7 linked regions of the Homo sapiens genome follow. The protein of the gene in region 5 purifies or fractionates together with the protein of the main gene of each other region. This does not show direct contact. Each region holds a gene or a part of one and is shown on either strand. Other genes may lie near its edges.

What was found.
Region 1: the proteins of RHBDD1 (region 5) and PLA2G4D purify together in Homo sapiens (affinity purification with mass spectrometry; one large-scale study listed by BioGRID and IntAct). This does not show direct contact.
Region 2: the proteins of RHBDD1 (region 5) and PEF1 purify together in Homo sapiens (affinity purification with mass spectrometry; one large-scale study listed by BioGRID and IntAct). This does not show direct contact.
Region 3: the proteins of RHBDD1 (region 5) and CP purify together in Homo sapiens (affinity purification with mass spectrometry; one large-scale study listed by BioGRID and IntAct). This does not show direct contact.
Region 4: the proteins of RHBDD1 (region 5) and PLG purify together in Homo sapiens (affinity purification with mass spectrometry; one large-scale study listed by BioGRID and IntAct). This does not show direct contact.
Region 6: the proteins of RHBDD1 (region 5) and ITGB2 purify together in Homo sapiens (affinity purification with mass spectrometry; one large-scale study listed by BioGRID and IntAct). This does not show direct contact.
Region 7: the proteins of RHBDD1 (region 5) and A2ML1 purify together in Homo sapiens (affinity purification with mass spectrometry; one large-scale study listed by BioGRID and IntAct). This does not show direct contact.

The regions. Positions count from the first base shown.
Region 1 is NC_000015.10:42,070,366-42,074,623, reverse strand, and holds part of PLA2G4D (cytosolic phospholipase A2 delta), read left to right. Parts: intron 1-2,231; coding exon 2,232-2,349; intron 2,350-2,712; coding exon 2,713-2,850; intron 2,851-3,072; coding exon 3,073-3,180; intron 3,181-3,306; coding exon 3,307-3,501; intron 3,502-3,740; coding exon 3,741-3,907; intron 3,908-4,258. UniProt on the Homo sapiens protein: Calcium-dependent phospholipase A2 that selectively hydrolyzes glycerophospholipids in the sn-2 position. Has a preference for linoleic acid at the sn-2 position.
Region 2 is NC_000001.11:31,634,765-31,639,022, reverse strand, and holds part of PEF1 (peflin), read left to right. Parts: intron 1-3,500; coding exon 3,501-3,801; intron 3,802-4,079; coding exon of another isoform or gene 4,080-4,177; exon of another isoform or gene 4,178-4,258. UniProt on the Homo sapiens protein: Calcium-binding protein that acts as an adapter that bridges unrelated proteins or stabilizes weak protein-protein complexes in response to calcium.
Region 3 is NC_000003.12:149,207,905-149,212,162, reverse strand, and holds part of CP (ceruloplasmin precursor), read left to right. Parts: intron 1-1,783; coding exon 1,784-1,996; intron 1,997-2,778; coding exon 2,779-2,952; intron 2,953-4,258. UniProt on the Homo sapiens protein: Multifunctional blue, copper-binding (6-7 atoms per molecule) glycoprotein. It has ferroxidase activity oxidizing Fe(2+) to Fe(3+) without releasing radical oxygen species. It is involved in iron transport across the cell membrane.
Region 4 is NC_000006.12:160,700,621-160,705,501, reverse strand, and holds the start of PLG (plasminogen isoform 1 precursor), read right to left. Parts: upstream 3,259-4,881; 5' UTR 3,198-3,258; coding exon 3,149-3,197; intron 1-3,148. UniProt on the Homo sapiens protein: Plasmin dissolves the fibrin of blood clots and acts as a proteolytic factor in a variety of other processes including embryonic development, tissue remodeling, tumor invasion, and inflammation. In ovulation, weakens the walls of the Graafian follicle.
Region 5 is NC_000002.12:226,838,776-226,843,033, forward strand, and holds part of RHBDD1 (rhomboid-related protein 4), read left to right. Parts: intron 1-633; 5' UTR 634-852; intron 853-4,258. UniProt on the Homo sapiens protein: Intramembrane-cleaving serine protease that cleaves single transmembrane or multi-pass membrane proteins in the hydrophobic plane of the membrane, luminal loops and juxtamembrane regions.
Region 6 is NC_000021.9:44,889,747-44,893,399, reverse strand, and holds part of ITGB2 (integrin beta-2 isoform 1 precursor), read left to right. Parts: intron 1-1,403; coding exon 1,404-1,591; intron 1,592-3,177; coding exon 3,178-3,422; intron 3,423-3,653.
Region 7 is NC_000012.12:8,853,229-8,857,486, reverse strand, and holds part of A2ML1 (alpha-2-macroglobulin-like protein 1 isoform 1 precursor), read right to left. Parts: intron 3,360-4,258; coding exon 3,238-3,359; intron 2,708-3,237; coding exon 2,656-2,707; intron 1,979-2,655; coding exon 1,895-1,978; intron 324-1,894; coding exon 147-323; intron 1-146. UniProt on the Homo sapiens protein: Is able to inhibit all four classes of proteinases by a unique 'trapping' mechanism. This protein has a peptide stretch, called the 'bait region' which contains specific cleavage sites for different proteinases.

The sequences.
Region 1 (4,258 bases), on a different chromosome or scaffold from region 5:
TGCTCAGAATGACTTTATTAGTCTACATACATCTTTAATATTGATTAGGTTTTTATAAAAACCCGCTCGTAAAATACACTAGCTATAATCAGTGCTTCTCAAACTCTCATCTCTTCGAAACTTTTTTCTTCAGTCTTTTGCTGGCAAGTACTGAACTGCTTAGAAGCTGCTTATCATTCCTCAAGGAGAAACTCAGAGTGGTTCTCTTATCCTTTCCTGAGTTAAGAGCTGACACACTTTCCTTCCCTTTAGTCTGCATTGCCGGTACTGCACCAAGCTCCAGTGTTTCCCATGGGACCCTCGAATCATCAGAATGGTGTTCTGCAGGGTTGGGGTTACTTGCTTGGAAACTGGGGGGTTAGAGACTGAGAGTCCTGCCGCAGCTTACTGGTGAGCCATTAGATATACCGGGTGGGTTTCAGTAGATGGAGGGGTGTGCTGACCTTTTTCCAGAACTTTCCCTAGGGCATAAATTGTGCAACTATAGTAAAAGGACACATTTTCCCTAGTCATATGTATCAAAAGAGCAACAGAGTTTCTAAATAAAAAGATTTTGAGAAGGGGTCACGTACACACATTTGTACCTAAGGACTGACTCGTACGTACACCACCACCATCAGTGGCAGGGGATCGAGCCCTATTTAGAGATTTCCTGCAAATTCCCTGTAATTCATACTGGGGACCATTGGAAAATGGGGTGGAAGGATGACTGTGGTTGACACATGAGTGTTCTCGTCAGGGACAGAAGAGCTGCCAGCAAGGAGGACACACACACTGGGTGTGTTGAGTTTCGCCATGGATGTGGGAGAGGGACCCTCCTTGGGTAGGCTGGGTAGGAATCCTCACACCTGGCTGGGCATCAGGATCATCTGAGGGTTTTTAAAAGGCAAACTCCAAAGTGACTTCTGACAGGCTGATTCTCAGGGGAGACCCAGAAGTCCGCATGCTTCACATGCTCTCACGTGTACACATTCACTGAGTCACTCTGATGATAAGGGCTGCTGCGGCAGGTTGGGAGCCTCTAGAACTAGACACTCTTCCATCTTGGAGAGCCCAAAGGAAGGATGACGTATTCATGGTACACATACTGCCCAGTAGAAACAGCCCAGGGCTGACAGCATCAACCTCAGCTCTGGCGGCAGAATCCTTCCCAAGGTGGTGCTCCAGGCAGGCACCACCATTCGCCTTGCTGGTGCTTGGGAAGAGCTCTATTTGCAATTCTAGCTCAGCATAGAATGAGGCCTTTCTGTTCCCTTACAATTCAGGGAGGCTCTGTGGAGGCTCCCCCAAAAGGCAAGCTATAGTCGTTGCCATCAAAGAGCTTGGGCCAGGCATGGTGCCTCACGCCTGTAATCCCAGCACTTTGGGACGCCAAGGCAGGTGGATTGCTTGAGCTCAGGAATTTGAGACCAGCCTGGGCAACATGATGTAACTCCATCTCTACAAAACATGCAAAAATTAGCCAAGTGTAACTTGTAGTCCCAGCTACTCTACTCGGGAGGCTGAGGTGGGAGGATCACTTGGGCCTGGGAGGTGGAGGTTGCAGTGATCCAAGATTGCACCACTGCACTCCAGCCTGGGTGACAGAGTGAGACCCTGTCTCAAAATAAAATAAAACAAAGGCAGAGCTTGGAGCTCTATTGAGGAGGAAATTAAGAACAGAAGGCAAGAATAATCAATGGGGTACAACCTCATGTTATGCAAAGCAAGAAAGAAGAGGGACGATGAGGGGGAGGCAAGGATGTCAGGAAAGCATTCGGGAGGAGCTGAAACTTGAACTGCATTAAGGTGAACCTAGAAGAGGGGGCAGTCCATCCCCTGGCATAGGTTGCAGTATATGCTAAAAGGGCATTGCTGCATCCTTTCTACAAAGCAATACGTGGATGTGTGCATGTGTCCTTGTGTCTGTGTGTCAGTATCCACACCCACTTCACCCTTAAATCCACGAAGATGGGCCTGGAAGCACCGCTGGCATTGTGGTCCCTATGAATGGCCCTCGCTGGAGATTCATAGTACACAGCCTGCATGCCCTGTCCAGCGACCCTGCATCTAGGGCTGTTCAGAACACAGGGGCAGGAGTGGGAACTGACCCACATATGGTCCCCAGACCCCACGGGAGGAGCTGCCTCCTCACCCCCAGCCAGGTCCCCCATCCTGCCCCTGTCCTGGCGGAGCCACTGCCTCCAGGGTACTCCCAGCCTCACTTAGGCCCTGATGCCCTCTGGCCCCAGGTGATGGATCAGAAGCTGTCAGGACAGAGAGCCGCCCTGGAACGGGGTCAGAACCCTCTGCCCCTCTACTTGAGCCTCAATGTCAAAGAGAACAATCTGGAGACACTGGACTTCAAGGGTACAGTTCTACCTACTCCCCTCCCACATACTCCACCCCCCAAACCCTCTGCACCCCGACAGCCCCCAGAGAATTCATGCTGGAAGCTCCGCACAGATTGCCCAATGTTCCGGAAGGGCAGTGGTGCTGAGGGGCTCAGGGCATCTCTCTGTGCTTGAGAGTGGGTAGTGCTTGAGGGTGTGGACCAAGGGCTGGGAGGGGTGTGGTCAGTCCAGGACTGCCCATTCCTCACATCTGCTGCATTGGTGCCAGGCACAGCAGGGCTCAGGCCTGCTGGGGGCAGGGGCAGTGTCTTTCGCCAGAGCTGGGGACTCCCGCAATCCACTCCCCTCACACTCCTGCCTCTCCTTCCCACCCCATTAGAGTGGGTTGAGTTCTCCCCCTATGAGGTCGGTTTCCTGAAGTACGGGGCCTTCGTCCCTCCTGAGCTCTTCGGCTCCGAGTTCTTCATGGGACGGCTGATGAGGAGGATCCCGGAGCCCCGGATCTGCTTTCTGGAAGGTGAGGGTGGTGGCTCTGAAGGCCCTGGGCAGCCCTGGGCCAGGTGTCTGAATGGACATGGGTCCTGTAGCTCAGGTGGGGCAGAACCTCAGGACAAGGGGGAGGGGTGGCGGGGGGGATGCATTGTAGGGGTAGCCCTCGCCCCACTCCCATTTTCCATCAGTACCTGAGGGTGGGGCCGCTGGCTGGGGCCTGAGGCTGATCTCTTTTGGTGTTCCTCAGCCATCTGGAGCAACATTTTCTCCCTGAACCTGCTGGATGCCTGGTATGACCTCACCAGTTCTGGGGAGTCCTGGAAACAGCACATCAAGGACAAGACCAGGAGCTTAGGTGGGAAGGGCAGGGGCACTGAGGGGCCTGGGATGACGCTGTTCCTTTAGAATGCTTGCGGTGTGCGGTGTCTGAGGGGAAGAAGTAAGGGGAAGAAGGGACCAATTTCTGTTTCTCTGGCTTCAGAGAAGGAGCCCCTGACCACCTCGGGGACCTCCTCGCGGCTGGAGGCCTCGTGGCTGCAGCCAGGCACGGCGCTGGCCCAGGCATTTAAAGGCTTCCTGACAGGCAGGCCCCTCCACCAGCGCAGCCCCAACTTCCTCCAGGGCCTCCAGCTGCACCAGGACTACTGTAGCCACAAAGACTTCTCCACCTGGGCAGGTCAGGGCCGTGGCCAGGGGTCCCTAGGTCACAAGGTTGGGCCTCTGGGTGGTGTGGCAGGGACTGGCTGAGGCCTAGGAGGTCAGCATCCACTTCTGGGGTGTGGCCTGGAGACGATCCCCTTGGAAGGTCCTGGGGAAGGGCTGGGTGGCATTTAAGGAGTGACCCAGAGGAGAGAAGGGGACATGGATGACCTGTGGCAGGGTGGTGGCCTCTGACCATCCTGCGATTCCCACCAGACTACCAGCTTGACTCCATGCCCAGCCAGCTGACCCCCAAGGAGCCCCGGCTCTGCCTGGTGGACGCCGCCTACTTCATCAACACCAGCTCTCCCTCCATGTTCCGGCCAGGCCGCAGGCTGGACCTCATCCTCTCCTTCGACTACTCCCTATCTGCGCCCTTCGAGGTACCCTGGTCACCCCAGGGGAACCCCTCTGCCCAGCCAGGCCAAGCTCCAGAGGCGAGCAGCAGGGCCACTGAGCCCCTGCCCCACACCGCCGGGGTCCCGAAGGGAAGGAGAGGTGTCAGGCCTTGATCTGCTGGCTCCTGCCAGGGTCCTTAGGTGGGAAGGCTGGGGTGGTGCAGGGGCCTTGGGCTCCCAGGACAGGTGAACAGGGAGGGACCTCCCCACACCTACTCCAAAGAACAGCTGGACGGAGCTGAGAGGAGACCCTAGCATCTCCATGTCCATCCCCCAGACCTCCCCTGAGACGCTGTGCCAATGTGGGTCTCCTCTCGGCTCTGGGATTTGAACAGT
Region 2 (4,258 bases), on a different chromosome or scaffold from region 5:
AACAGCACAAATTCCTCCATCTAAGCTTCCTTGATAGCACATAAGTAGATTTTTCTGATGGCACTGATCAGATTGTATCACAATTATCTGTGGGCCCCTTAAGGGCAGGACTTCATTTACTTGTGTCCTCAGATCTACTACAGAGCCTAGTACAATATTGTCACTCTGAAAATGCGTGCTGAATGAAGTCCTTTAACAGCTCCGTGGCTTAGTTTCTTCATCTGTAAAAGAGGGCAACTAACATCTTCCTTTTTTCTGTTAGGAGGCCATTGGCAAGATTCTGCCTGTAGTGTTTGTGTTTGTGAAAGTACTTTGTAAACTACAGAGGAGGTCTTCAAATGCAGGACAGAAAGGAAAGGGTTTAATTGCTGCCAGACTACAATAGCCAGAAGGGCAGGAGACCTGCCTGGCAGCACCTGCTTTGTTGGCCTGGGGATGTTTCCTAGGTGGTTTATAGGTGGTTTCCTAGGTGGGTTTTCCTAGGTGCCAGGTGCGGTTTATAGCTTTGCTCACAGGGCTTATAGTGGGGCAGCTACTTCTGGCTTCGTGTCTGGCCTGTTCTTTGGGTGTGCCCAGATTCTGCAGAGTTCCCACTCCCTTTCCATCCTATGCTGGAATCCTGAGCCCTATTGCTTAATGAAGGAGTGTTGTAGCAGGAGGCAGGGGGAGTCATTGGGTGCAAGGGAGTGGTCCAGCCTTGTCTCTTCCTCCAGCTCACAGCATTACTTGGGCAAGTCCCTCCCTCCCTCCCCCATCTGTAAAATGGGGGTTAGGTTAAGTGACTTGTCTTCTGGGTATTTCTCTTGTCACACCTCTCCAACCCCTTGGGAATCCTGTTCGTTCTCTAAGTCCTAGCTCAAATGCCACTCTCATGGAAACACTCCCTGATTTTACCCTCCTTCCTTTGCAGTCCTATGGCACATGACTTATGTCTCCATTTCAAACACCTGTTTTCCTTATGCTGTTTTGTTAGACGTTACACAGTGTCTACATGTTAAGTCTTGTTAACTGTGAGTGCCTTCAGATTGCTTCACTCTCCTTTATACCCCACCCCGCACAGTTCACCTGGCCCAGGACTTTGCTGATAACAGTAATTAATATAGCAATAGCAGCTATGACTTACTGATCATTTGCTTTATGCCAGGCACTGTTGTAAAAACTATTTTTCTTATGTGAGTGGTTTTCAGACTGTCTTTTCAGTCACTGTGAGGGGTTTTCAGAGCCCCCTCAGAATGTAGCAAGGGAGGGGGTTCCATATTGTAGGGGCTCTGGAGCTCCCACCTTACTTCAGCCAGAGCAACTTTCTTGTATTTGTTTTATTTATTTTATCAAAGGATTCTTTCTTTCTCTCTCTCTTTTTTTTTTTTTTTTTTTTTTTTGGAGACAGGGTCTCCCTCTGTTACTCAGGCTGGAGTGTTGTGGCACAATCACAGCTCACTGCAGCCTCCAACTTAGGCTCAAGTGATCCTTCCGCTTTAGCCTCCCGAGTAGCAGGGACTACATGTGTACCACCATGCCCGGCTGATTTTTAAAAATTTTTTGTAGAGGTGGGATCTTACTATGTTGCCCAGGTTGGTTATCAAAGGATTCTTTAGCTAAAAATTAAACTGACAGAATTTTGCTGCATTTATTTTTTATAATCTGCAGAACAGTCCAGTGAGGAAGGAATTGTTCTATTTGTGAGGAAGCAGGCTCAGAGAGATGAAGCCACGGGCCCACAGTCATGAACTTAGCTGATGGGAGCAGAGTTTTAAATTGAGATCTGTGTGAGCCATTCTTGTCTGTGAAGGAGTCTTGCTAGTAGCTATGACAGCTTCTAGGGTAGAAAAGCTCCCAAGGATTGCTGAGTGGGTGACAGGGCCTGCTTCCTGCCCTCCCCACAAAAAAACCTCATGAATTTGGCCTTAGCCTTAAGAGTAATTATTTCAAGCTATCAAACACAATAAAAAGAGAAAGCCCAGGCTCTCAGTGGCTTGGCCACTGGTGCACTTACAGGTTGATCTAGAACGTATCTAGATGGTGCCGTTCTCGGAGCTGGGCCTAGCTGCTGTCTGTGCCCTTGAGCTCAGCTTGTCTGCAGATGTGTTGGGGCTGTGCTCTGCTGGGTCCTGTGCTAGCCATTTAGGGAGATGGAGCGGAACACTCCGAGGGCTACTGGTGTGGGAAGATGGATGAGAGAGGGAATGCCCCCATGTATGCTCTAATGCACAAATGCCCTGGACATAGAGCCAAGAGACCCAGGTTCTGGTCCCAGCCCCTCCACACAGCCTGTGTGTGACTTTCCTGGACTTGAGTCTTGTCCTCTGTAGGAGGCTATTATTAATAGTGTTTATTGAGTGCTTAATTTGTGTCAGGCCCAATGTCAAAGGGCTTCACATAGCTGGCCTCATTTCATTCACAAACTAACCTGAGAGGTAGCTATTATTATTCCCATTTTATAGCAGAAGATGTTGAGGCTTAGAGAGGATAAGTCAGTCCAGTTAGTAAATGGCAGAACCTGAACTTGAACTCTTGAACTGGTTGTTTTTTGTTTGTTTGTTTGTTTTGAGATCGGATCTTACTCTGTCACCCAGGCTGGAGTACAGTTGTGTGATCATGGCTCACTGTAGCCTCGACCTCCCCAGGCTCAGGTGATCCTCCCACCTTAGCCTCCTGAGTCATTGGGACTATAGGTGTGCGCCACCACACCTGGCTAATTTTTGTATTTTTTAAATAGAGATGTAGTTTTTCTATGTTGCCCAGGTTTTTAGTAGAGATGTTGTTTTTCTGTGTTGCCCAGGCTGGTCTCTAACTCCTGGGCTCAAGCAGTCTGCCCGCCTCAGACTTCCAAAGTGCTGTGATTACACAGCTGTGAGCCACCACGCCTAGCTGTTGAACTGGCCTTTGAAAGCATTGTATCGTATTGCCTTAGGAATAGGGTCTCCCCTGCCTGCCTCACAGAGTTGTGAGTGAGGATAGGGAAATGTTTTTACATCAGGGTAAGGAAGACATGCTGTGGATGAATCCATGCTATAGCTATGTCATTTGTGACTGATGAGGGTCAGGGGTGTGTGTTAGAGACTGCGTTTGCCCCATGAGTTCTGCAGATAGAGATGGGAGTACCACAGGATGGGCATTTGGAATTCTGTTTGATTCATTTGCCTATTCATTCATACAGGAAATATTTACCAAGTATCCATTCTACACTGGGAGCTGGGGATAAAGTGACAAACCAGACAGGATCCTAGCCCTTGTGGAGCCCCTTGATGTGCAGGAAAGGAGAGTTAGGAAAGGAGGATTTCAACCCTGACTCTGCAGGTCATTGGCGGGGTGACTTTGGGTAACTCGTTGCTCCTCTGGAAGCCTCAGTTTGCCCATCTGAGCAGTGAGATCATAATTCCAACCCTACCTATAGGATCAGTTGAAAGGATGGTGGTGGAAGTGCTTTATGGTTGTAAAGTGCCATACTCTGCCTAGTTTCTGGCCTCATCATTCTGACTGATATCTTGCTCTTCCTGCAGGGCTGCCCAGGAGCTGCAGGACAAGCACCAGGAGCCCCTCCGGGTAGCTACTACCCTGGACCCCCCAATAGTGGAGGGCAGTATGGTAGTGGGCTACCCCCTGGTGGTGGTTATGGGGGTCCTGCCCCTGGAGGGCCTTATGGACCACCAGCTGGTGGAGGGCCCTATGGACACCCCAATCCTGGGATGTTCCCCTCTGGAACTCCAGGAGGACCATATGGCGGTGCAGCTCCCGGGGGCCCCTATGGTCAGCCACCTCCAAGTTCCTACGGTGCCCAGCAGCCTGGGCTTTATGGACAGGGTAAGTAGTAATCTTGGACTCCGGGTACCTCTGACGTGGTTCTGAGTTATCCATGGCCAGCCTTTGTCCTTCCTGTGGGTGTGCAGGCAGCCTGGTCTCTGGCACCTTAGCATCTTGCTTCCAGCTTCAGTGTGTATCCTCAAAATGATAAGTTTGTCAGCTAGTTTTGTTGCAAGCATTTATTTGTATTGCTTGCTCATGCTTACTTTCTTTTGCTTACATGTCAGCAGCTGTTAGCTGGCTGTTGAGTTTCTGTTCCCTGTGTCTTTTTCATTCAGGGATACATGCTGAAGGAGCAGCTCCTGTTTGGGATATGTTATCTTTGTGGCAGAGAGAAGGAGCAGGAGAGCTAGCAAGAATGCACAATGCCTCTTAAAGCTTCTCTGAAGTACTGTATGTCTTGCCCACTTGCATTCTTTTGGCCAGAGCACCCCCTGATCAAGACTGACATCAGTAG
Region 3 (4,258 bases), on a different chromosome or scaffold from region 5:
ACTTTTTTATTTTTATTTTTTTTTTGCATTTTTAGTAGAGACGGGGTTTCACCGTGTTAGCCAGGATGGTCTTGATCTCCTGACCTCCTGATCTGCCCGCCTCAGCCTCCCAAAGTGCTGGGATTACAGGCGTGAGTCACTGCACCCGGCCAACTATTTTATTAATAGGTACTTTGTTTCCATATAATAATGGCATGTTTCTCTTGGTTGTGCTCTTTCGTGGAAAGTGTGAATGTGAGAGAATTTCTAGGTGGACTCAGTGAGAGTCAGAGAGAGCTGGAGCTTCTTTCCCAGAGCCCAGTCCTTTCTGGCCAAATAGAATAAGAGAAATGGACAAAGTGCATCAGAGCCTAGAAGAGGCAAAATCCAGAGGGAAGAGAAAGAAGGACTCAAGATGTGGATTGCCTTATCTTTGAAGTTCCTACATGTAAACATACTGTGCTGTTGTTACCTCCCATCCTAACTTTATATAAACTCTGCCCCAGCTAAGGTGGCATAAGTAGTCTCATGTCAGTCAAATGGTACATATGCCTGGATGACTGTAGTCACATATGAGACACAATTAACTGAAAAAGTCATTTGAATGTAGGACTTGGAAGCCTTGAAAATAGTACCTGAAAAACAAAGATAAGGTTTGGTGCCTGTGATCTCATTCTTAGTCCTTAACAATGATGGTAAAAAAGGTGGTATTTTGTAGTGATGAAAAGCAAGGGCTTTGAAATTAATAGACAAAGGTCTGAGCCCCAGCCTTGCCTTTCACTGTTTGAGTGACCTTGGACAAATTACTTAAGTTCTTTCAGCTTCAGTTTCCTCATCTATAAAATAGAGATAATAAGAATACATAGTAATACCTCAATAACTATCAGCTGCTATCATAAGCAAAAATGCTGAAGTCATGCTACAGTTCATTGAAATTATAATGATCGAATAGGGAAATTAATTTAAAATTAGATTTGATTCATTATTAGTTGTCTTATTAAAAGAGATATTGGTTTAGAAAGTGAATGTGTTGACTTTTTTTGTTTTTGTTGTTGTTTAGGGATAAATTACATTCATAGCATAAAAGGCTGACTGCCATCCTATTTCTTTTTAATGATTTCATGGCTTACTAGGGAATTACCATTCATTTTAAAGGTATGGTAATGGAACTGTGGTTTTGTTAGAAGAAAAAAAGGGTTCCTATCTTTTAGAGATACATACTCAAGTATTTATGAATGGAATATGATGTCTGAGACGTGCTTTAAAATAATTTGATGATACTGGGGATAAGAGTGTGTGGGGGTACAGATGAAACAAGGTTGGCCTTGAGTCGATCATTGTTAAAGCTGGTTTGATGGGTACACAGAGGTTCAGCATTTTCTTCTCTCAACCTTTGTGTGTGTTTGGAAATTTCCAAAATTGAGAGTAGAAATGTTTTTAATTTTATGGTTACTTCGTGGGCAAAAATCTGAGATCATATAAGAAGTTTTGAATTTAGAAGAGGGTAGCCTTTTTGCTCAGACTCCCATACCATGACCCGAGTTCTTTACATTGCAAACAAAAAGTCATTATGCTCTCTGAAAACCCAATCAAATATAAAAAAATAATAAAAATGTCTGTGAAGCTTCTACACACCCTAGCCATTAGCCTTTCATTTTCCTGTGTCCAAATAGGATAACACATCCCCAAGGATCACATAGTAGATGTTTAATAAATGTTTGCTGAATGAATTAATGGACTATCTATTCTCTCATTTAAGTTCAAACACATTCACTTTGCACCTTCATTGCATGTTGCTTCCTAGGGGCCATCTACCCTGATAACACCACAGATTTTCAAAGAGCAGATGACAAAGTATATCCAGGAGAGCAGTATACATACATGTTGCTTGCCACTGAAGAACAAAGTCCTGGGGAAGGAGATGGCAATTGTGTGACTAGGATTTACCATTCCCACATTGATGCTCCAAAAGATATTGCCTCAGGACTCATCGGACCTTTAATAATCTGTAAAAAAGGTACATCTTCTCCTTATTGCACATGCTATATGACCAAAAGACAGGGGCAGGGCAGTTTGTCTTTTAAAAAGAAATCAAGTCTTCTGTGCTGAGATTGAGCAGGTAAGGTAGAGAGGTGGTAAGTAGAAAAAAAGGAAGGGAAGAGCCAGGCAGGACTAGGAGAAGAAGGGATAAATAGAACAAGCATTCCTACGGGGAAAATGCCAATGAAGGTAATGTGAAAGAAATATATTCTCTCAGGGTTCAGTTTGCTGTATCTAACTTCCAACAGTGGTGCTGAAGAGACATATGACTTTACCAAATGTGACTACCAAAAGGGCACTCCACGGTGATAGATCTGTAGTTACTCATACTATATTGGTAAACATAATATCATAGTATTTATTTCTAACATCATGAAAAAGACAACGGAGCTCAAGAGCCTGAAATACAATTCTAACTTGAACAATCGTTACCTGTAAAGACTTGTCTCTGTTTGTGGCTATATGCACCAGAAAATAGACGCACAACTTTGAATTCCAATCTTCCCATTTGCCAAAAAGCATTTAATAGTTATGTGGTCAGTGGACATCCAGACACAGGAGTGTCTTCCAAGCACCAGATACTGATCATAAAAATTCCCTGAGTGTTTCTGTCTGTAAAACAGGAGTGACTGGTCCAGACTTGTGATTTATTCGAAAAAATAAATACTAACATTTTTAAAAACTATAAATCACCTGAAAACATAAATCAAAATACATGCTAAAAGTTTAGTCTTGCTAAAATAGTAACTTTAACTCCAGATTCTCTAGATAAAGAAAAAGAAAAACATATTGACCGAGAATTTGTGGTGATGTTTTCTGTGGTGGATGAAAATTTCAGCTGGTACCTAGAAGACAACATTAAAACCTACTGCTCAGAACCAGAGAAAGTTGACAAAGACAACGAAGACTTCCAGGAGAGTAACAGAATGTATTGTAAGATTACAGCAGACATGTTAACTTTACTTTTTTTTCCCTTGATCCATTAATTCTGCTAAGCTTATTCCCTCACATAAATAAGTACTGTGTGTCTAGTCTGTGGTCCTTATAACAAAGCATATTGGATGTGCAATTTGATATTCAGCTAAGTAAGTCAGAATAAAAACTCTAAGCCAGGTAAAGCCAGATACACCAAACTTGTTCCCCAACTGGTAAGGATAAAGCATCAATTATGGTTTAATGCATATGTATGTGACATTAATATATTTATTTATCCACTAGACTCATTCTAAAAATTATTTGAGGCAGCTCCAAATTATTAAACTAAATGCTTAAAACCATATTATATTTTAAAGCATCTAACTATATTTAAGAAAATAGTTCAAACCACGAGTTCTGAAAGGTATTCGTTTTACATACTATGTTGCCCTCACTGGGCCCCTTAGTCTGCATCATTCGTTTCTACATTTCAGTTCACTTTACTTTTCTAGAAATGCTTTTTTTACAGTTTAGACTTTTTCTTAATTCTCAGACACAAAATAATGAGCTTAGTAAGATTATCTATTTCTCATAATTTGCATGAGAAACAGAGTCCCTTAACAACAACTAGACCAATAAGTAGATATTTTCGTTTATTTGTTTGTGTTTAACTTCTTCAAAATAACCTGTACTCAGAAACCGAGAGCACAAAAATAACGATACTACCAAAGTAGAAAAATAAACTAGTTAACAAAGTACAGATTTTGTTTCCAACTTTTACTTATATCTGGGTGGAAGGTCCTCTTTCCATACTTTAATCCTGTCTCTGTTGTGTACTAACAAAAATAGTTGTTATAAAAAGATACTCAAAATTCTAGCCTGAGCAGGTTTGATTTGGTACCAGTGTTACATGTGGTGCACTCAGGATTCTTCCCAGAACTAATTTCCACTTGGGAAATTTTTAGGGCCACCCAGTTTGAACAGTGACCATAAGTTTCTTCTGAGGGTTTCAGGCCACCTTGCCTATGAACTTTTAGGTCTTTGTGGCTCTGTCCCTGCTGCCCTTCTACATTTTTTCCCTCCTTCATATCTCTTCCAATCTTAAAAATTTTGTCTTGCAATCTTTAAAAAAAAGCTATTCTTATGTACTTTTTACAAAATAAATTTATGGTAGAAAATTGGAAATTTTCTGACAAGCAAAAACATCCATACTACCAACATGATGAATAACTGATTGAATACTAATATTCAATCTTTTTTCTATTAATTCTATGTGTGTTTTGTTTATATGTATGTATATATGCACACCTCTGTATTTACACAC
Region 4 (4,881 bases), on a different chromosome or scaffold from region 5:
GGGAGAAGTCAGTTTTTCCAAGGTGTTGACAGGTATCTGGATTTCGGAGGAAATTGTAAAAAAGCAGGACCTGGGACAAATACTGGTCTTGGTTTTTCTTTGAGATCAAATCTGAGACAACGAATCTGTCCGAAAGCTGCTTTCTGCCTGGTCGTGGCAGAGGGTGGCCAAGGGGGCCTCAGCTGTGCTCCCACCACAAGGCTACAGGGTGTCCCCTTGTCCTGAGGCTCTTCCAGACATCTGGCTGAGCTTTGGTAGCTCTATTCCAAGCCTGGAGATGCCAGCTCCGTCCTTGGCACAGAATGCTAGTGATTTGCACAAGGGTGAGAGGCCAAAAGAGGCTAATAAAATGAAGACAGGCAAGCTCCATGGAATTAGACAACAGGACAACCTTGACCACTTTGAGGGGCGTGGTGGGGGCCGCAGGCAGAGGGGGTGGGTTACAGAGTGACTAGGAGAGCAGTGGAGGCTGCAGCAGGAGACAAGCCTGGCTCTGAAGACAGCGAGCCCTCCAGGGAACATGCGGTCAGGGGAGGTTCTGAAAGATGACACACTGCAGAGCGCATTGGTTTGTATGCTGATGACAAGTATCCAGTAGGAAAGCAAATGAACAGATTTTCATTCTCAGAAAGGCCTGTCCTGACCTCCTGAGGGTACACAGAGCACAAGGGGCAGGACAGGGAGGTGGATGCATGCTCATCGATTCATGCAAAGTCCTCGGCCAAAGTCCCCCTGCTCCCCACCTCTGGGACTTTGTCCTTCCTCAATTTAAGACATTCCGGGCTGGAAAAATGGATTATTGAGCAGGAGTTGGCTGATGCATTCTAAAGCTAATCCACTAAAAAGCACTTGAGAGATATATCAAAAGATCACAAAGAAATAGATGCTTTAGGCCCATATCCATGTCTTTACCCCGCACTTTCTGCCAACTTGAACTCTCATTTTCAAGAAGAGTTGTGTTTTGGTTAATTCTATATAGCTCACAGTGTGACTTCAAAACACACAATAAATCCACAAAGTGTGTCCTACAGTGAGTTCAGTTAAACTTTCTGAAGAGTTTTTTTGAAGTATAGCAGAGCAGGCTACAACTGATATTCAAAAAAAGAAAACTTCCATTTATTTCCCCCTTCAATTAAGTTCTCTGTGTTATGTTACTATGCTTCATAGCGCATCGCTGCTGAGATCCCCTCCCCAGCTCATGTCCCTAGGAAATATCCCAAAACAGAATCAAACTTTTCTCTTTTCAGTTTGAAATAATTTTCCCCCATTTTTTCTTCTCTTATTCACCTCTAGGACTCATATGGCAATAGGATTTGATAGGGCTTATTTGCTGGCAAGGAAACATCAAACAAATCTTTTAGTGGAAAAATACATTTATATTATAGGCAAAATGCAGATGTATATTGCTACTGATGCAAATGTATTTTATTAATGGTGTGAGAATTTCTTCCTCACTGTGGTGTGTGAATGTGTATGCATATTTGCATGTGTAAAAGACTTAATTTGTGAAATGGAAGATGTTTCTCCACTTCCCACTAAGCATGGCTGTAAAAGAAACTTTTCCCTCTCCCCGGGCATTGCAGCACACTGGAAAGATGATACATCCACAGAAAACCTGGCTTTCCAAAAGAGCTTATGAGAGAATGTGCCCACCAGGTGGGTTAAAACATATGTTAATCCTGTGGCAGAGAAGTTTGATCTAGCCTTTGGGTGTAGCCCACTGAATAAGTTCATAGTGATCTATGTCCTAGTTTCCATGCATTGAAATATAATATTCATACCCCCCAACATACACCAATTTCTTACAAAAATTTCTTTAATTTTCTCCTGCTCTGTATTTTCTTTGATAGCTCCTTGAATGGCTTCCACTAAATTCAAATGTATTTGACTCTAAAGTGCAACTTGTAAAATTTTATCTGGTAATTTATAGATTGAATTTCAAGCGTACATTATTTACATGAAGAACTACTAGCAAATCGTATGATTCCGTTTGTATGAAATGTTCAAAATGGCAAAGATATAAATACAGAAAGTAGATTAGTGGTTGCCAGAAGCTGCAGATTGGGGGTAACAGCTAAGGAGAGTGGAGTGCGTTTTTGGGGGTATGAATAGTTTTAAAATTTATTCTGATGGTGGCTGCACAACTCTCAATATCTTGAAATCCATTGGATTGTATGCCTAAATGGGTGAATTCTATATGTTAATTATATCTCAATAAAGCTTTTTTTTTTTTAAAGAAAAAGAAGTACTAGGACATGTTTAGAATATTCTTTCAAAGGCTTAAACAAAGCTGAAAAGTGAGAAGAGCCCTAGATTCCTTCTGGGAAACCTGGCTTAAATCCAGTTTTCTTTATTTCCCAGATCTGAGAATTTGGTCACTGAGCAAATAACATGATATTCCTAAGTCTGATTTCTTTGTTTATAAAATGAGGATGAATATGCTACCCTACCTATACCACGAGCTAAATAAGCTAGTATTTGTAAAGGATACACACTCACACTCACATTCACACACAGGTATGTATGTATGTGTAAAAATGTAGGGACCTAACCCAAGCAACTGAGTATTTGTTGATCACTATCTGCACACAGCATCTGGCAAATGGATGCGTGTGATTTTTCCGGGGATAAGAGGCAAACGTATACTGATGGAAAGCCTTCCTCAGGCCATAACAAAGGGAGAAATGCTGAGTCCCCGACCCTGCCGCCACCATGAACTGGTGAGAGAACGGAATATATTCAAAGAGATATTTCACTGTTTTAACTTGCAAGTGAGGGGAGCATGACACCGTAACAGAGATGATATAAATTAGTCAAACTGAGAACCAGGCAAAGAGCTTAGCCGTCCTTTGCATAATTAGCTACATTGGCTCTTTTTCAATTAGACTGGCCATTATGTGGGTGCACTCATTTAGATTTGAAAAATCACCCATTATTTTCTCTGCCCATTCATTCCAGCACCCTGACAATCTTCACAGGAAACTTAAACTTATTTCTTGAAGAATTCCTCAATCTTATACAAGATTTTCAACTGGAAGTTTCATGAATCAAAAATTAAATGAATTGCACATAAAGCCATGGCATATGTATTTTTACTACATTGTGGGAGAAAAAATAATTCTTATAATTTAAAAAAACTATGTCTTACCTGATTTCAGAAATAAAAGAAGTAGAAGAACCACTTCCTTATGTTCCATTTTGGGACTGGCCAGCAGTGCCCAGAAAGTGGGTCCCAATCCCAGGATGTTGTTGACTTACATGAGAGTAAACGCATCCACAAACCAGATAGTCAAATTAAGTTAATGATTCTCTCAGAGACCCATGCCACTGGCTCAGCAGGGTTCAAACATTACCTTGAATAAAGAGTCCTTACAACATGTTTGAGGGTGGAATCTGCAATAGATGCTGGGAAGTGGTGAAAGCAATCTCCCCCCTCGGCTGCTCCACGCTGCCGTCATGTCTCCTTATTCCTTCCCTCACCCTTGTACTTTATCTCTCGCAATTAGTCTTATTTCCTCCCCTCTTCTCTTATTCCCTTTCTTTTGGAGAAAATGAAATCATAAAAGTATCTCACATTTGCTGGAACCTTCCATGACGAGACCCTCTGCCAAGCGCTGCACGTCCATAGCCTCCCTCAAGCTTCCCAACAGGCAGGGCTGTTCTCATTCCTGCTGTACGAGGGATGGGGCTGAGGCCTTCCCCAAGGTTGTGTCTCTACCCAGGGGTGCAGCTGATAGACAAAACCCCTTCAGGTCTTAGATGACAAACTTAAGTTAGGTGTAAACGTTAATATCTCTACATCCTACACCAAATGACATAGAAATTACGACATAAGTGAAAGTATCTTATTATCTTCAAAATTTATTTATTCCCAGTGAACTCACATGTTTTCTGTAATTATAAATTATGTTATAAGACATCAATCTTTCCCCCAAATGAACGTATGCCATATTATTATATTCTCATTCTCATGAAATAAAGCAAGACTGGTAGCATTAAGTGGAAAGCGTCTATCTCAATTTTAAATGTTGAATCTGTACTTTTCCCTGGCTTAAGTCTAGAGCAACCAGGTAGTATATATGCTGTAAAACTTCTATTTTAGTGTTCAAAGATATTTAGGAATAAATCAATTGACCTCTCTATTTTAGATGTGAAATAAGGACCAGAAAGCATTGTTCCTCTTTCCAGGCAGTGAAATTCCTGCCTATTCATTAACTGGCAAAAGAGTAGAGGTGGGAGCCCAATGGTCTTGGGTGGAATGTCCTGCGGAATTCCCTGGGATTGAGGAACCATGCAGAACCCTCAAGAAGAAGCCACACTGGGCAACAAGAGGGTGGCCCCATGTGAGGGACAGGGGGACCGAATCGCTTTTCCTGATTTCCTATTTTAGCCTCACTCTCTTCTCTCCTCAAATTCTTACCACTCCCTTTATCCTCTCTGACTCACCTCATGGCCCAGTTCATTAAAGGGGACAGAAGGTGGAGGCAGATTGAGAAACCAGCAGTGGGCAGACATTTTATTTTTAATGTGAAATGTCTCTTAGGGGGCTCATGTTGATGTGCTTGAGAAAGTACTCTGGGAAAAAAAAATACTCTACTAATATATAATGCTTCCAGCATGTATTTATTTCCACTTAAAATATTATTGTAGCAGTTCCTCTTGGATAAGGCACCTTGGGAATGATGTTATCAGAAATTCTACATCCACATAATTTTCTTTTCCTGTTGTTTTGGTTTTGACTTGGGTGGTGTTGGTATAGCTTTTGCCCACCTTTCCCCTGGTAGTTGTTGGATGCATTAAATTCTACAAATGTGATTTTATAAATTAGTTGCCCTCCTAATGGCCTCCTGGCTGTACATTCTTCCCTACCTTCATAATCCA
Region 5 (4,258 bases):
AAAAAACAAACACTTGAAAAAAGTTGAAACTTTAACGTGAAAAAACACCATCTTCAGTTTTATCACTGTAACAGAGCAACTTGTAGAAATTGTTTTGGATGTTTACAGCAAGGTAAACATCCAAAGGTCAGGGGATGAGTAATAAAGTATCTTCTGTTAGTTAATGGGGACAGTCAGCTAGAGAAGGGGACACTGTTACAGGAAATGAGACCTCGTTGAAGGTATGCATCAAAGGATGAGAAAATGCTGTTAGCCCTGAAATTGCTAATATTTTTTTAAAACACGAATTCTTAATAGCAAAGTGAAAAGTTTTACATTACATTTTTTAATAAGGGATAACAAAATCTCTTACATGTATTTCTGTGTGTTTATATTGTATATGAATGTATGAGTGCAGAAAATACTTGACTCACACTAGGTCATAATTTTATTTGTCAGTATATTGGAATATGGGGGTGGGGACCAAGTATAAAAGGAAATTTTCTATATATGTAAAATTAGATACGTACATGTATATGTAAATGTTCTTTAAAAAAACTATTAAAAACGGAAGCGATTCTTTAAAAGGTAGATTTCCTTTTATGTTGCAGTCATAGCCACGTAAGCAATGGACCTCATATTTTTTTTCAACAGGGAGCCTCTTAAACAGAATCTTACCTGTAAAACTCAGGAGCCGAGAAGCTTTAAGAACAGTGAGGTTGAAGGGCACAGGCTCTTGGTCCTTGGCAGCGATATTAGGAGGCGTGCCTAGGGAACCTCGGATTCCGGGGAGCTGGACGTGAAACTCTGTGGTGGAATAGAAATCCTCAGGGCATGAGCTATACCTAAAACGTAATGGTATTAAGAATTCTGGTAAGTGGGATTCACAAACTTGTTCTGAAGACAATTTCCAAGGTTGTCAGCCATGTCACCATATGGATGGCTTCTCATGCAGAGGAGTGAGTGATTATTGAGAAAAAAAAAAACCCACCTGACCCGTATTTTACAAAGTAGGATTCTGTGCACTTTTTTGAGGAATTAGCTTTTTAAAAAATCCCTCCAAGTTGTGACAGCTGTATCGCTATTAAAAGCTATTTGGCATTTTAACTGACTGTTGTTTAGGATTACAAATGACTCGGGGAAAAAGAAACAAGGAGTCAAAGGAAGTGTATTACTTGTGTTTATAGCCCTATCATTTTTTTGTTGTATGGAAGCAACTACTCTATATTTATATAGTAAAGTGTTTTTTTAGAGTTAATTTTTAGTTAATAATGAGCCTTCATAAGAAAAATAATTTCAAATGCTAAGTATTTGTTAGATTGTTACTAATAGTGGTAGTTAGTGATATTACATTGTCTTTTTCACACATTGAAGAGGGTTTCCTGGTGACAGCTGGAGCTTGGGGGAGGGGGAGTTACTTTCAATCAACCAGCTGCTTTGTGGCAATATCATGATGGTGATATTTCAAAGCCCATAGATAACTTTGGCTGTTTCAGGAAAGAAAATCTATCAAATTTCTGGGAAGCAACAGATAATGGGCAAGAGACCTTTGGGATCTACGTGATGGCCAACTAACAATGTGTGCATTCCGGTTTGCATGTTGGGGTTATTTACCATCTAGTTTCTTGGACATTGTTACATGCACCTCATAATTACACAGTAATAGAATCTAGCTCTAAGGGCAGGAAAATCTCATTAAGGAGAGGAAAGGAGAGTGAAAAACCTTGGTGATGCACTGCACGCTTTAACATAATACCCTATTTCATTTATTCTTGATGGTGATTCTAGAATGTAAGTGGAATTTTTTGCCATCTATGGATAAAGAAACAGAAGCTCTACAGTACTGGTTGTATGATTTGCCCAAGGCCACATACTAGTACATGATGGCCTCCATATTTGACCCCAGATCTTCTGGCATTAGCTCTAGGAATGTTGTCATTACACCAACAGCTGTTTCTCCAGGTGTTAACTTGCTTATGCATTTTTAATGCAAAGTCACAATATCAGGATAGTAATGAATGAAATAAATATAAATGTTACTTACAATGACTTCAGTTTTATAAATAATATATAGGGGTGTGTGTGTGGACTTGTGTGTATGTGTGTTTTGGCAACTACATATAATTTGGGTTTTTTTTTTCTTAAGTAAAAAGTCTCTTGGGCAATACTGTGAAAAAAATTTCACTACGTTTTTTAAAAATATATTACTGATACCAGCAATATTGCAATTATGTGTGTTGCAATGAATCAGTTGTGATTCTAAATTTGAACAAACCTAGGAATGAATTTTGTGCATACTGCCCATGTAGTCGCCCTCATCCTAACATATTGAAGGAAATTTCTTGTTTTTTTCTTTCAAGGCGTATTCATTTTTCATTCATTTATTTATTTTTTTTGAGACAGAGTCTCACTCTGTTACCTAGATTGGAGTGCAGTGGTGTGATCTTGACTCACTGCAGCCGGGACCTCCTGGGCTCAGTTGATCCTCCCACCTCAGCCTCCCTAGTAGCTGGGACTACAGACATGTGCCACCACACCCAGCTAATTTTTTTTTCTTCAGCTTTTAAGTTCAAGGGTACGTGTGTAGGATGTGCAGGTTTGTTACATAGGTAAACATGTGCCATGGTGGTTTGCTGCACAGATCATCCTGTCACCTAGGTATTAAGCCCCACATCCATTAGCTATTGTTCCTCCCTGCCTACCACACCTCCCTGACAGGCCCCAGTGTGTGGTGGCTCCCTGCTCTGTGTCCATGTGTTCTCATCATTTAGCTCCCAGTTATAAGTGAGAACATGCAGTGTTTGGTTTTCTGTTCCCATGTCAGTTTGCTGAGGATAATGGCTTCTAGCTTTATCCATGTCCCTGCAAAGGACATGATTTCATTCCTTTGTGTGGCTGCATAATATTTCATATGTACCACATCTTCTTTATCCATCTATCATTGATGGGCATTTAGGTCAATTCCATGTTTTTGCTATTGTGAATAGTGCCACATTTAACATATGCATGCATGTATCTTTATAATAGAATGATTTCTATTCCTTTGGGTATATACCCAGTAATGGCAATGCTGGGTCTAATGGTATTTCTACCTCTAGGTCTTTGAGGAATCGCCAGTCTGTCTTACACAGTGGTTGAACTAACTTATACTTCCACCAACAGTGTAGTAGCATTCTGTTTTCCCTGCAACCTCGCCAGCATGTGTTGTTTTTTGACTTTTTAATAATAGCCATTCTGACTGGCATGAGATAGTATCTCATTGTGGTTTTGATTTGCATTTCTCTAATGATCAGTGATGTTGAGCTTTTTTTCATATGTTTCATGGCTGCATGTATGTTTTCTTTTGAGAAGTGTCTGTTCATGTCCTTTGCCCACTTTTTAATGGGGTTGTTTTTTTCTCCTAAATTTAAGTTCCTTGTAGACTGTGGATATTAAACCTTTGTCAGATGGATAGACTGTAAAAATTTTCTCCCATTCTGTAGGTTGTCTGTTCACTCTAATGATAGTCTCTTTTGCTGTGCAGAAGCTCTTTAGTTTAATCAGGTCCCATTTGTCAATTTTTGCTTTTGTTGCAATTGCTTTTGGTGTTTTCATCATGAAATCTTTGCCCATACCTATGTCCTGAATGGTATTACCTAGATTTTCTTCTAGGATTTTTATAGTTTTGGGTTTGACATTTAAGTCTTTAATTCATTGTGAGTTAATTTTTGTATGTAATATAAGGGGTCTAGTTTCAGTTTTCTGCATATGGCTACCCATTTCTCCCAGCACCATTTATTAAATAGGGAATCCTTTCTCTATTTCTTGTTTTGGCCAGGTTTGTCAAAGATCAAGTTGTTGTAGTTGTGTGGTCTCGTTTCTGAGTTCTCTATTTTGTTCCATCTGTCTATGTATCTGTTCTTGTACCAGTACCATGCTGTTTTCGTTACTGTAGCCTTTTAGTATAGTTTGAAGTCTGGTAGTGTGATGCCTCCAACTTTGTTCTTTTTGCTAAGAATTGTTTTGGCTACTTGGGCTCTTTTTGATTCCATAAAATAGTTTTATCTAAATCTGCGAACAATGTCAATGAAAGTTTAATGGGAATAGCATTAAATCTATAAATTACTTTGGGCAGTATGGCCGTTTTCATGATATTGATTCTCTCTGTTCATGAGCATGGAATGTTTTTCCATTTGTGTCCTCTCTAATTTCTTTGAACAGTGGTTTGTAGTTCTCCTTGAAGAGGTCTTTCACTTCCCTTGTTGGCGGTATTCCTAGGTATTTTATTCTTTTTGTAGCA
Region 6 (3,653 bases), on a different chromosome or scaffold from region 5:
GCCTGGCCACAAGGGTCCCCATCCCAGCTTGCTGAGGGGCTCTGGGGACAGCCAGAAGGAGCCAGGGTCCCCATCCCAGCACACTGAGGGGTCCTGGGGACAGCCAGAAGGAGCCAGGGTCCCCATCCCAGCACTCTGACGGGGGCAGGGAGGGGCACACAGGCATCAGAGGCTGTCTGGGAGCAGGCAGCATCCACTGGAAGGACCCTGTTTCTTTCCTTCACATCCTCTCTGCCGAGGCCAGACGCTTTCCTTGTGAAGCTGATGTCAGGAACGTCAGTGAGAGGGTGCCGAGAGGGTGCTTCTCAGTGAGAGGGTGCTGGGAGGGTTCTTCACACACGCCTTGGCCCCCAAGAGTCCTACTCATCAACCTGGAGCCCAAATCCCTGGGTCAGGCCACTGCAGACTGAGGGATGGAGTGATGGCTGCGCCCCCTGGGGGCAGACGCCGGACACACAGAACAGGCGCAAACGGCAAACCTGGGTAGGGTTAGTTGTCATGATTTTCTGCGTGTTTCATTCTGTTTTTTTGACAGAAACATTAAGGCATGGGCCACACAGGTGGTTAGGAATGGACACTGAGTTCCTTCTCTAATCTTTCAGGTTTAAGTTTATTATCCAATCATTTGTTGTTTCTTTTTGTTTTTTGTTTTTTGTTTTTTTTTTTGCTAGCTGTGAAATAATATTCAGCAAGACACTTGCTTTCATTGCATTTTCTTAATATGACTTTGGAATTCCTTCAAACATGTTTCTTGGTAAATGTTGCCTGTGGATTTTTTTTTTTTTTTTTTTTTTTGAGATGGAGTTTCGCTCTGTCGCCCAGGCTGGAGTGCACTGGTGCGATCTTGGCTCACTACAATCCAAGTGATTCTCCTGACTCAGCCTCCTGAGTAGCTGGGACTACAGGCGTGTGCCACCACGCTCGGCTAATTTTTGTATTTTTAGTAGAGACAGAGTTTCGCCATGTTGGCCAGGCTGGTCTCAAACTCTTGCCCTCAGATGATCTACCCGCCTCGGCCTCCCACAGTGCTGGGATTACAGGCGTGAGCCGCGGCGCCCAGCTGTCCCATGGATTCTCACCAGAACGTTTCCCTCATGTTGGGTGGTCTGAGTGGGAGTGTGCTCAGCTTCTCCTGATTTGCTGTCTGCGTGTCACATGTCTCTGCTGATGTGTGGCCGGGGAGATCCTGGTGCCGGCCAGTGCGGGAGTGCGGGCAGAGCACCTCCTTGCCGGCTGACTTTGGCTCTCGGATCTGAGCATCAGCTCTTCCTGCTCCTGGTCACCCCTTCCTCCCCACGCTGAACCCCCCAGGACCCCTGCAGAGGCCAGGAGGTGAGGGTTGGGAGCTGGGCTGCCACCCTGGCCACCGAGGGTCCCCACCTGAGCCCAGCACTGCCCTGCAGATCACCTTCCAGGTGAAGGTCACGGCCACAGAGTGCATCCAGGAGCAGTCGTTTGTCATCCGGGCGCTGGGCTTCACGGACATAGTGACCGTGCAGGTTCTTCCCCAGTGTGAGTGCCGGTGCCGGGACCAGAGCAGAGACCGCAGCCTCTGCCATGGCAAGGGCTTCTTGGAGTGCGGCATCTGCAGGTGAGGCGGGCGCAGGTCCCTGTTGAACCATCCCCGAGCCCCACCCCACAGGGCAGGTGTCGGCAGGTGAGGTGGGTGCAGGTGGCTCCATCCCTTCCCCCACCCCACGGAGCAGGCATCCTGGGGGCCCCCTTCTGCAGGAGGTGGGGAGATTTGGGATTGGAACCCAGAACCCCTCGGCAAGCCCTCACCCGTGCTCCTGAGCCAGGGCACCAGCAATGCCAGCCTGTACTCTACACTCTCTGGCCATGGAGGACCCAAGGCAGGGGACTTGTGGGCAGGAGGACCCCCTCACCAGAGGATGGAGGCCCATCTCAGGGGCACAAGGAGTCCCCGCTGGGCGTGCCCATGGCCTTGAGTGGGTCACTTTCTCTGCCCGACCTTCCTTGACCCTAGGAGCTGGCTTCTCTCTGACCTTGGGGACCCAAGGCCATCAGGCTGGCAGCCCTGGGGCATGGGTGGCTAGAGAGCCTCCTGGGACAGGTGATGGCTTCTGGGAGCCTGGGCCCCATAGGCCACCTCTTGGGCGTGCACACCCCCTGCCAGGCGTGGGCACCCCACCTCAGGGAGAAGTGGGGGACAGGTGGACCCAGTGGGGAGGTTCACATGGCACTCAGCCAGGCGGCCTGCCCGGGGGCTGGATGGCTGTCCCCCTTTCCTTGCTTGCCTGGCCAGAGCTGCTAGGCTGACCTCCCAGGACTCTGCCCCCTTTGCTCTGGTCACCTCCTCCCCTGTCCTGACCGCAGTGCCAATCCACGTCCTGGTGGCAGTGCCCTTCCTCACCTTCAGGTCCCTGCTGCCCCCAGCCTCCTCCCATATCTCAGGACAATGATGGTCTCTGTGGTCTTGGTGGTCTCTGTTGCTGTCCTCGTGCCTCAGTGGCCACCCCGCCCACTGTCCTGGGTGTGCAGCCCTGGGGCGGCCTCTTCACGGGACTGTAGGGGTGACTCAGTCGGAACACTTGGCAGGTGTCGGGGGGTGCCCTGCCACAGGTACTCAGACACTCGGTCCTGCAGCTTCCTCCTCTGGGGAGCAGGAGAGCCCGTGGCAGTGCCGTCTCTGAGGATGCCTCAGGGTGTGTGTGGCTCCTGCCTGCCAGCGGCTTGATGCCAGCTTCCACATCTGTAAAAACCCCTTGTCCCTGCATTCTCCCACAACCTGGCCTGTCAGTGCACGAACGCAGGAGGGAGGGCGGGGCTGTGGCAGGAGGCAGTGCCGAGTCCCCACTGGCCACCATGTGGGGCACGCAGGAGCAGACACCAGCCACTCACAGAGCACCGGTATCGCAGCACAGGCCATGTGCATGGCTGCAACACAGCTCCACAGTGAGCCTGCCGAGCCACTGCATGCGCAGGCCAAGGCCAGGTGTCTGCTTTCCCCTCGGGACATCCTGGGGAGGGAACGCGGGGCCCCTGCACGTTTTGAGCACATTTAGTCCGTGGCAAGTGCTCAGTAGGCCTCGAGGAAAGCAAAATGTGCCATAGGGGTGTTCTCCACCAAGGGCAAGGGGCCTGGAGGACAGGGCGGCTGTCCCTTGTCCCACATCACTGGGGGGAGCCTGACCTTGGGGCCCCTCCTGTCCCCAGGTGTGACACTGGCTACATTGGGAAAAACTGTGAGTGCCAGACACAGGGCCGGAGCAGCCAGGAGCTGGAAGGAAGCTGCCGGAAGGACAACAACTCCATCATCTGCTCAGGGCTGGGGGACTGTGTCTGCGGGCAGTGCCTGTGCCACACCAGCGACGTCCCCGGCAAGCTGATATACGGGCAGTACTGCGAGTGTGACACCATCAACTGTGAGCGCTACAACGGCCAGGTCTGCGGCGGCCCGGGTGAGCCCGTGGGTCCCTGCTGGACAACGGCCGTCCTGCGGCACAGACTTGGTGTTGGGGGGTGCGTTCTGGACCATTCAACGAGTGGAACAGAAAGGGGGGATCCTGAGGACAGACAGTGCAAGTCTCGCCCAGCCACCGGGCGTCAGCAGGAACTTGGATGGCCCTGCACCCCGCCCTGCCTCAGTTTCTGTGTCCATGAGGACAAGGCGTCCTTGTGGGGAGGGCCCA
Region 7 (4,258 bases), on a different chromosome or scaffold from region 5:
TTAGATCACAGCGACAACTTCAGAAAACACCCCCATGCCGTTCAAGGATATGGGACACTTGAGGGGCTGGAATTCCCTGTATCATCAATCTGTCATAGGGCCTAGTGGAGGAGAGTGTTCAAGAAAGAAAGACTGAACCAACTTACCTATTTCCAGGAAACCCACTGCCCGAGACCTGATCTCCTCCGTCAGCAGCCCTGCCTTCTCCAGGTACTGCAAGACATAGATGATGGGAGCAAACAAGACCATGTTCTGCTCGCCACAGCCACTGGGCATCTGCACCAGACCATCCAGGTTCTGCAGGGCTGTGCCCATAATGTCTCCTGGGATCCAAAAGGAGAGAGAGAAGGTAGGGGTACAGAGAAGAAGGGACCCTCTAAGAGTTATCATCATTCACTGAACAAACACGTATTAGCTATCATTTAATAAGTACCTACTATGGGCCGGGCGTGGTGGCTCACGCCTGTAATTCCAGCAGTATGGGAGGCCGAGGAGGGTGGATCACCTGAGGTCAGGAGTTCGAGACCAGCCTGACCAACATGGACAAACCCTGTCTCTACTAAAAATACAAAAAAAAAAAAAAAAAAAGTACCTACTGTGTGTCCTGGGAAGACCACAGTAAATCAAACTCGGTCTCTACCCTCAAAAAAACTCACAGAGGAGCAAACCATTACAACACATTACAATTTTTATTCATTATAAACAATTTTAATACAGTACTACAATGTCATACTGGATATGTACGAGGTGCTAGGGGACACGGAGAGGCACATAAGCTATCTAAGAGAGTTCAGGGCTTTTAAGAAGACATGTCACTGAGCTGATGAGTGATGTGACAAAACTTATAACACTTAGGATCAATCTCTTAAGCTCCTCTACCACTGCATGTACGTTCCTCACCCTCCAAATCACCAAGTTTCTCTAAAACACAGTTCTGACACTCTTTTCCAAGTTGTCACTGACCCCTTCATATACTTCCCAAGCCAGTGAACCTGACATAAGTGACTCATTAACATCTGCATTGTAGCCAACAAGCTCAATTCAATCTATAAATGTGTCCTGAATGTCAACTATGTTGCAGGAACTGTACTAGGAACACAAAAGAAAAAGATGTGGCCCTTCCTCTTCAGGAGCCCCCAACACAGTGTGGAAGACAGATATAGACAGTGAACTCTAATACAATAAGATAAGTGCTATGTCAGACTTACGAATAAAATAGACAAAACAGAGACACTGTGACTGCAAAGGATCTCAATAGAGGGTGAGGGAGTAAAGAAAGAGCCTAACATTCATAGGGCTCCTACTACATGCTAGATATTGTGCTGGGGACTTTATATTGCATTTAATCTTTACACCAGTCTGAGAGGTAGGTTATTATCACTGTTTTACAGAAGAGGAAAGAAGGCCCAGAACTGTTCACTAACTTGTTCAGGGTCACATGGCTATTAAATGACAGGTTAGATATGATTTCTACGTTCATGCTTTTCAACCCACTTCCTCCCTTGCCCCAAACAGTAAGTGTGCTGCCTATTGTAAATATGGTTGTATCTTCCCTAAACTATACCCAAATTCCTCAGTTTTGAAAATGGTTGCTGCAAATATTCTGTTTTCCCTTCACCCAATTTATAGACTGTCTAAACCTAAAATCAAGCATCAGCGACCTTACCTTCTTCCTACCCTGACTCTCTTCCATTTTTAACTAGAGTACAAGTCTAATCCCATCTGTACTGTTGCCTACACTGTATTTCCCTCCTATATAAAATACGCTCTTTTTCCTTCATCACTTGTTATTAGTTACACTCTCCGGATAGGTCCGTATGTCCCGCCCCACTCCACACCTTTGCAGCCTCCATTCGCCTTTTCCTTTCTGAGTCAAGAATCTCTAACTGCTTACCCAGAACCGTAACATAAGCCTTGGTCGAGTCAGGAACAATGTCCACTGGGAGCTCCAGGGAGACAGATTCAGATGCCACCTTTCCTGTGAGATGCAGAAAAAAAGGTGACACAATAGAAGATGGGGAATGGCAGGGGTTCTCAAGACAAAATTTTAGAAGAACTTTCTATAATCCAGGGATTTCTGTACTCGGTGCTTTCTCTGGGATGCAGAAAGCACTGGGTACTATTCATAGTGATCTTGCTGAAAATAAATTCCACAGAGAGTCATCATCGTGCTGCACACTTTCTCTTCTTCCTCCTGCCTCCCAGTTAATCAGCCCCATGAGGAATGGCACTTCAGACTCTCCTATTCCTTCTGGTACTATGCATTCCTCCTTTTGCCTATGAAAATCTCCTGCTGCCGGGTGCAGTGGCTCACGCCTGTAATCCCAGCACTTTGGGAGGCCAAGGCAGGAGGATCACAAGGTCAGGAGTTCGAGACCAGCCTGGCCAATATGGTGAAACCCCATCTCTACTAAAAATACAAAAATTAGCCAGGCATGGTGGCATGTACCTGTAGTCCCAGCTACTCAGGAGACTAAGGCAGTAGAATCACTTGAACCCGGGAGGCAGAGGTTGCAATGAGCTGAAATCGTGCCACTGCAATCCAGCCTGGACGACGGAGCGAGACTCCGTCTCAAAAAAAAAAAAAAAATGAAAAGAAAATCTCCTGCCCTCTAAGGGAATTCTCACCACCAATCCTGCTCTGAGTCCACCCACCTTTTGGGCACAGCAATGAGCTGTGTGTCTTCTCCACCAGGACTCCCTCAGGCTGCGATGAAGAGAGACACAGATAAAAACAACAAAGATGAACATCAGGAGGGATGGCACTAAAGGAAAGGGAAGGGAGGCCCCTCGCTGTGCCCCCAGGGCTTCCCTCAGAACTGCAGACAAGAGCTTCTCACTGAAGCTCAGAAGAACTCTGCGTCAACCCAAGGATGGGCCCTTTCTGTAAAGTTCTTTCTGGGCAAGTGCTAGAGCCAAAGACACATTTAGGCAACTTCTAAGAGGCAAGATTGACAATGGGCTTCATGATGGGACGAAAAAGGCAGCTATTGATGAAGACAGACATTTTAATTAGGTAAACTAACATTTGTTGAGTGCCTATGAGGTGCCGGGTTTTAGGTGCTTTCATAGGCCGTGGGTGTGGATTAGGCAAATGTTCAAGGGGCCAGGGAAGGAGAAAGTTGAAGCTGCCTGGTTGGACTGGAGTATGGTTGCTGTGAGAGACTAACTCACAGCAAGACGAGATGCTGAGCATCCCTCGGTTGGTTGCTGTCTCTACCTCTGAAGAAAACTCACTTTGACGAGAACTGGCTTGATGAGCGTGTCACTTCGGCCCTTTTGGGGAACAAACCCCTTCTGGCCCCCACATGGTTCATTGCTGTCCAGAATCTTTGTACTAATAGTAAAGTTAATGTGACCTGAGAGAAAGAAGAAGGGAAGCCATTAGCCCTATTGCCAGAGGTACCAGTGAGGTCCATTCCCATTTGGATCAGCATTTCTGAAACTTTAATGGGGATCTTGCAACAGTGCAAACTCTGCTGCCATAGACCTGGGGTGGGGCCCATATTCTGCATTTCTAACAAGCTCCCAGGTGATGCCAGAGAGGCTAGTCCAGTGTGGTAGGTAACCTCTAAGGGCCCTCAGAGATCCCTGCATCCTGATATTTACATCCATTGAGTGTGAGCTGGATTGAGTGACTCGCTTCTGTTAAAGAGAACAGGGTGAAAGTAATGACTCTTCTGGGATTAGGTTACAAAAAAGACTGCAGCTTCCATCTTGGGTGCACCCCTTTTCTCAAACTGCTTGCTCTGGGGAAGACAGCTGTTGTGTGATGAGGCAGCCCAGCAGAGAGATTCATGTGATGAGATACTGAGTGAGGCCCCTAGCCAAAAGCTGAGGTCAAGAACTGTGTCCTTCAGTCTAGCAGCCTGTAAGGATCAGAGACTTTGGGATGAGCTTGAAAAATCAATCCTCTCCTAGTCGAGTCTTCAGATGAAACCAGAGTCCTGACTGACAGCTTGATTGCAACCTCATGAGATACCTTGAGCCAGAGGTACCCAGCTAAGCTGCACCCAGATTAATGACCCATAGAATCTGTTTGATAATGTTTGTCCTTTTATGACACTTAAGTTTTACAATAATTTGTCAAGCAACATGAGATAACTCATACATATGAAAATCAAACTTTGAGTTGCAAGGATTTAATCTATGAGTGACTGACATCCCATAGGGTTGGGGGTGAGGATTAAACAAGTTAAAGGTGCAGTGACTCATTCTTGTAATCCCAGTACTTTGGAAGGGTGAGGCGGGAGAATCA